Homo sapiens: one gene and its partner. The protein of the gene in region 2 interacts with the protein of the main gene of each other region in a pairwise test. Each region holds a gene or a part of one and is shown on either strand. Other genes may lie near its edges.

Region 1 (3,500 bases), on a different chromosome or scaffold from region 2:
TGAGGTGACCTACAGGAACATGGGAGGGGAAGGCAGATGTGGATGGCAGGTTGTACAAGTGACTTTGTTGCCCACAACTGAAGTGACTTTAAATTTGGTCCCTTAGGTCACTGTCTACCCTGCCTGGGGTCCCCGCCCTCAGGGTAATTCTTTAAGTCAGAAAGCTCTGTATGATGTCAGCGCTTCGGAAGGTGAACTGCTTTGACCTGAGTGTCGAGGCAATCTGAACTTGCCCATGGTAACAGAGGCACAGGATTCTCCAACTCCCTTCTTTGGTCAAAGAATTTTTGGGCTGGGCTGGGCTGGACTGGGTGGGAAATTCTCAGTGAGTTATTTTATCTTTGGTAGGTGGCCTGAACACCTGAGGGACTGGACATCCCATGTTCAGCAATGTCAATGGCATCAGGAGGGCGCCCCAAGGGCCCCATCGCTTCCCTTCATGCATCCATTGTTCTGTTCATTCATTCATCCATACATCCACCTGCCTCTGAGCTTTCACCTCTGACTCCCTAACTCCATCAGACCTCTACGCACCATAAGACTCTGCCAGAACTGAGAAGCCAACATTTCTACATAGACTCAACCTCACCCTCTCCTAGTTTTCCAACAAGACACTCCAAAGCCAACTGGATTTCTCCCCTGTGCTCCAAATGACTTTGTACAAGTGCTGGAGTTAGCACCTCCCTCTGCCCTTAACTGGCTGGAACTGGTTCATTCTCCATTACTGCAAGAGAATGGAAGTCTTAATAGAAGGAAGCAGGAGTGATTAGTTCGGGTTAAAGCAAAAGTGTGTCATGAACTTGGATTCCCTGAAGTCAGTTTTGTCAGGTTCATGGCCCACTTTGCTACAGCATCAGAGTGAAGCACGCCTGTCTAGGTTCTCCAGTGACAGAAAGATCCTGAAGCATGGACTAACATGCTCTCTGGAGCTTAGTACTCCAGAGCTAGATCCTGATGGGTCTCTAAGGTTCCCTCCAAGAAGACAAGGACAGGAGACTTGGGAAGGACCAATGGTAATTTAAGTGGCTCTTAAAAAGTCATGCAACATGTTTCTGGACACGTTCCTGATCCTATTGCGATAATGTATGTGTGCCCTCCCTGTGGGCACACCACCTGGGCATTAGGACTGAAATTCCTGAGTTCTTCCTCTCAAAATTTCTGTGCACCAGTATTATTCCTCATTTTACATACAGGAGGCAACTAAGACTCATACAGGGCTCAACTGAATAAGAGGCTTAAGAGGATAAACTGGAGCAGAAATAAGCCTTAGGTGCTGCCCAGTTTACACTTCCTGGGATGGATGTTTTTGTTTGTTTTGTTTTTTGTTTTTTTTGTTTGAGATGGAGTCTCACTCTGTCACCTAGGCTAGAGTGCAGTGGTGTGATCTCGGCTCACTGCAACCTCTGCCTCTTGGGTTCAAGCAATTCTCATGCCTCGGCCTCTCCAGTAGCTGGGATTACAGGTGTGCACCACCACGCCTGGCTAAATTTTGTATTTTTAGTACAGACAGGGTTTGACTATGTTGGCCAGGCTAGTCTTGAACTCCTGACCTCAAATGACCCACCCACCTCAGCCTCCCAAAGTGCTGAGATTACAGGCGTGAGGCACTGCGCCCGGTGGATAACTTTGTTTCTGAAAAGACTGACATTGAACTTGTCTATGGCAATGCTTCTTTCACAAGCACGGACTGGGCTGAGGTCAACTCTGATAGATTCAGATGACTAGAAATTGGCCAAAAAAGCAGGGAGAAGAACATGAGGTAGACTTAAAGAACTTCCTTTATGTAAAGATCTGTGACTCTGAAATATCCTCCAAAAGGAGAGTGCATCTGAGACTGATATTTAAACTAAGAAAAATGTTTAGTCTGAGATGGATCATAAGTAAATGAGCAGTGTGAGAGGGGAGGGATGGGTAGGTGCTTTCCAAATACTTCGCCTATGAATGCATAATTTTCAGATTTTTTTCCCCTAGATTTTGAGGGAGCAGAGAAACTGGAAAAAACTTTAGTCAATATCTCGTGTTTCATTTTAATTAAGTGACAGGTCCAAGTGTGACATCCTTCAGCACCCAGGGACAAGAGAGGGGAAAGATGCTTTATGGAATGTAAGAAGATGAAGGTGACTGGGATTCAGCGAGAGAGAGGTCCCTCAGACCTGGGACCTCCCTTTATAGGGAAAGACCATATTCCATAGGTTTAGGGCTTTACCTTAAAAGCTCATTTTTTTCATTCTTCCATCCCTAGGAAAGTACTTAAAACCAGACTTTTAAATTTTTATTTATTTATTATTATTTTTTTGAGACAGATTCTCACTCTGTCTCCCAGGCTAGAGTGCAGTGGTGCAATCTCAGCTCACTGCAGCCTCAACTGCCCCAGGTTTAAGCAATCCTCCCACCTCAGCCCCCAGGTAACTGGGACTACAGGCATGCACCACCATGCCTGGCTAATTTTTGTATTTTATGTAGAGACAGGGGTCTTGCCATGTCGCCCAGGCTGATCTTGAACTCCTGGGCTCAAGCAATCTGCCAGCCTCAGCCTCTCAAAGTGCTGGGATTACAGGCCTGAGCAACTGTGCCTGGCCCAAAACCAGACCGTTAACACATTAAAGAGTCTGATTTTGTTGAAGAAAATATTTGCAATAAATTCAAGACTCTTCTTATTGGTAATTTTCCACACAATCCCTCTGAAATAAGGGAGAGGATATAGACCTTTTTAACTTTATAGTTAGAAAAATTGGCCTCAGTGTGAAATTTTTCCAGTCCCATAGCTCATGGATGCCACCAGCTTGCGGTAGTAGCAAGATGCTTACTACCACACCGTTTTCCTCGGTGGCCCAATAGCTCGTGTATCTAAGTTGAACCCGGCAGTATGCATGATTGCCTTTTTCTCTTCTTTTTAAAAAAACCCAACTCAGATGCTGCTTGCGTGGCTTTTAATGAAGCTGAATGGTATCTATCACTTATTTATCCTTGACAGGTTATCTTCCCCACTCTTCCTTTTTCTAACTTCTCCATTCTTCTCATTCTTGACACTTTCATTAGAACTATATGGTTTACGAAGTATTTTCACTTAACTATTTTATTTCTTCTCTATAACTGGTCCTGTGAGGTCACATTACAAAAGAAGAAACTGAGGGTCTCTGAGGTTAAGTAGCTTTACTAAATTATAAGGAAACCTAGCTGGTAGGTAGACAGCAAGAATCCAGGTCTTCTGACTCCTCTTTCAGTTCTCTTTCCACTTAGACCATAGCTGCTTCCTTTTCTTATTTTTTAGCTTCCATCTAACCATTGCCTATCTTGCCTGTCCTAATGTTCTCCATCTTCTCTCACCCCTAATCCCACTCACTGCTTCTCTACCACTTTGCTTTTTGGTGGATGCTAGCAATGTGCTTTGAGAGTCAGTCCTATTTTGGTTCTCTTTCTAGTTGGTTTGTACATCATTATTTCTCCTGAATTGCAATTAAACTCCTTCCTGGGAGATTTGATAATGACTGTAAATCAAT
Region 2 (3,432 bases):
TCATACTGCCTTGGCGTGCCTGGCATAGCATTCACCTGTCTTTATCAAAATCCTTCCCATCCTTCAAGGCCCTTCTCATGTTACCTCTTACAGCTGTTTCCCTGATTTCCTCGTTATAATTAGTCTGGCCCTCCATCCTCAGAACCCTGATAGCACTCTAACTGCCCTAATGACAGTGGCCACCTTCGCTCTATATCATTGTGTAGGTACATGCTTGCCCTGTTCACCAAAAGCTCTCAGAGATCAGTAGGAATCCTGCTCATTTTGGGGTGCCTAGCATAAGAAATTGGTTGGGGTCTAGTCTCAGCTCTAGCAACTAACTGGGTTGGCCTCCATGTGTCCCCCAACTCTGTGAGCCTCATGCCTCTAATTTATTTAATAAAATGTTAGATGAGAGCCGGGTGCGGTGGCTCACACCTATAATCCCAGCAACTCAGTAGGCTGAGGTAGGAGGATCGCTTGAGGCCAGGAACTCAAGTGTGCAGTGAGCTCTGATCACACCACTGCACTCCAGCCTGGGCAACAGAGCAAGACCCCATCTCTTTTTTTTTTTTTTGAGACAGTCTCTCACTCTGTTGCCAGGCTGGAGTGCAGTGGCACGATCTCGGCTCACTGCAACCTCCAACTCCCTGGTTCAAGTGATTATCCTGCCTCAGCCTCCCAAGTAGCTGGGATTACAGGCACGTGCCACCACACCCAGCTAATTTTTGCATTTTTAGTAGAGATGGGGTTTCACCATGTTGGCCAGGATGGTCTCGATCTCCTGACCTTGTGATCTGCCTGCCTTGGCCTCCCAAAGTGCTGGGATTACAGGTGTGAGCCACCACTCCCGGCCAACCCCATCTCTTAAAAAAGTTAGACTAGACCGTCTGTAAGGTGCTTTCCAGCTGTGAAATTCTATGGCTCTGTGTATGGAAGGAAAAGGGAGGCTGGGCTCTGACCTGTTCATTTAGCCCCGGTCTCTCATGTGGCCCTCTGCCGATGCAGCTCCCAGATACGACCAGGCCTGGGGAAGGAGATGGTCTGATGAGGCCAGCACTGGGGACTAAGGACGTGGAGTGAGCAGGCCAGCCTGTGGGCCAGGCCCAGGTTGAACCATGTTGCTTGCCTCAGTCTCTTCACAGAGCCCTCAGAGCCCCTCCCTGAGGAGTCCAAACCTGTGGAGATGCCCTTCCACCACTGCCACAGGGACCCCCTTCCGCCGCCGGGCCTTACCCCTGAGAGGCTGCATGCACGGAGGCAGCTATATGCTGCCTGTGCCGTTTGCTTTGTCTTCATGGCTGGGGAGGTGGTCGGTAAGTTGGGGAGCAGCCCTTAAACCCCATTCTCCAAATACCTGCCCAAGCCACTCTCCACCCAGAGTCCCAGGAATGTTCCTGGGTGCAGATGCAGAGATGGGGATGGCTGGGATAGGGGAGCTGGGTGCCCAGGACTCAGGAAGTAGGAGGGATAAGGGACAGCAACAAAGGGAATTCCAGCCGAGGTCCGGGGCCAGTAGGTCAGGGCTGACTTCTTTTAAAAACCCTATTTTCTTGTTATTAAAATAAATCATTGTAGAAAATAAAATACAGATGAATGAAAAAAATAACATAACAGTAGTTAATTATACCTGTAGTCCCATCACCTGAGAAAACCCCAAATCACATTTTTGGTGTATATCCCCCAATTTATTTTCCATGCCTATACACACTACATGATATTTTCTAAATGGAAGCAGACTCCATCATTTCACCCTGGCAGGCGGGTATCTGGCACACAGCCTGGCCATCATGACCGATGCAGCCCACTTGCTGGCGGATGTGGGCAGCATGATGGGCAGCCTCTTCTCCCTCTGGCTCTCCACCCGTCCAGCCACCCGCACCATGACCTTTGGCTGGCACCGTTCAGGTAAGGCCCCTGCATGGCCCAGTGACTCTCCAATCTTGCCAGAGGGCACCCGTCAGGGTCCCAAGCAGGTCTCTGACAGCTTGTCTCCCCCCCCACCCGCAGAGACTCTGGGGGCTTTGGCCTCTGTGGTCTCCCTCTGGATGGTCACTGGCATCCTCCTGTACCTGGCCTTCGTCCGCCTGCTGCACAGCGACTACCACATCGAGGGGGGTGCCATGCTGCTGACCGCCAGCATCGCAGTCTGTGCCAACCTGTTGTACGTCCCAGTATGGAGCAGGCACCTTGTGGGGCCCAGGGCGAGGGGTCTTCCTCCAGGATGGGAGAGCTGGCTCTCTCCTCCCCACCAGACACACAGACACGCACACACAGCTCTCCATGGGCTGCCCTGCGTGTGCCTGAGAAGGGTCTGGGATAGAGACCTAAAATTCAGTCAGCAGATCTCTGTCAAGGGCCTGCCATGGGCCAGCCACTCTGATGAGGGCTTTCATCAACATGATTGCATTTAAACCTCACAGCCACCCCATGAGGTAGGTAGCATTACCCCTAGTTTACCATTAATGCAGTCAATCCCAACAGGTGACTTGCCCAAGTCACATATCTATTTAAGTAACAGGGCCAGCTTCCGAATCCACATGTGTGGCACCAAGTCTGGTATTCTTTCCCCCAGGCTGCATTGTTTATCTCTCTTGCAAAATGCTGTTTTCTTCCAGGGGCTGGGAAAGGGCTACTGGGGAGGTGAGACATGGAGATGGGGGTATAGGAGGCCAGGAGCAGGGCCCTAGGCTGAGGTGCTCTGCTTACCCCTCAGAATGGCCTTTGTGCTGCACCAGGCTGGGCCCCCCCACAGCCACGGGTCTAGGGGAGCAGAGTATGCACCGCTGGAGGAGGGGCCTGAAGAGCCCCTGCCCCTGGGGAACACCAGCGTCCGGGCGGCATTTGTGCACGTGCTGGGGGACCTCCTGCAGAGCTTTGGGGTACTGGCTGCCTCCATCCTCATCTACTTCAAGGTACCATCATTGGAGACCTGCCCCAGCCTTCCTCCCCACAACCACATCCCAGCCCACTCCTTCCCAGGTCCCAAAGCTTCCTTCCTCCTCCCTCCAGCTCCTCCCTCCCACCTCCCAGGACTCTCCCAGACATGAGTCATGTTCCCTGTCCCCTCTTCAGGGTTTTGAGGGGCCTCTCAGGTCATGTTTGTTCAAGATACCCCTAGATCTTCCTCTGAAAGGTCCCTGGTTGTTGGGCTTAGGGGTCTCTTTCTCTGCAGCCTCAATACAAGGCAGCCGACCCCATCAGCACCTTCCTCTTCTCCATCTGTGCCCTTGGATCCACCGCTCCCACCCTCCGAGACGTTCTTCGAATCCTCATGGAAGGTGAGTCGGGCACCACAGCTCCCCATCCCTGTGGCCCTCTCTGACTTTACTCTCGCAGTGGGCCATCACTTTTTTCTTTGAAGATAGTACGGGAAGAAGGCTTGGCTCATGGGGTCTGCTGCTGGAACAAGGATTTGGGCATAGGGTGAATTGTAGGGGTCAAAAGGAGAGT

The links. Proteins that work in one complex are often made in the same cells at the same time.
Region 1: the proteins of SLC30A3 (region 2) and SCN3B interact in binary tests that used the Homo sapiens proteins (3 or more experiments, as listed by UniProt).

The regions. Positions count from the first base shown.
Region 1 is NC_000011.10:123,630,625-123,634,124, reverse strand, and holds part of SCN3B (sodium channel regulatory subunit beta-3 precursor), read left to right. Parts: 3' UTR 1-4; intron 5-348; 3' UTR 349-3,500. UniProt on the Homo sapiens protein: Regulatory subunit of multiple voltage-gated sodium (Nav) channels directly mediating the depolarization of excitable membranes.
Region 2 is NC_000002.12:27,256,616-27,260,047, reverse strand, and holds part of SLC30A3 (probable proton-coupled zinc antiporter SLC30A3), read left to right. Parts: intron 1-1,113; coding exon 1,114-1,295; intron 1,296-1,717; coding exon of another isoform or gene 1,718-1,740; coding exon 1,741-1,887; intron 1,888-1,989; coding exon 1,990-2,143; intron 2,144-2,695; coding exon 2,696-2,894; intron 2,895-3,154; coding exon 3,155-3,260; intron 3,261-3,432. UniProt on the Homo sapiens protein: Probable proton-coupled zinc ion antiporter mediating the import of zinc from cytoplasm into synaptic vesicles and participating to cellular zinc ion homeostasis in the brain.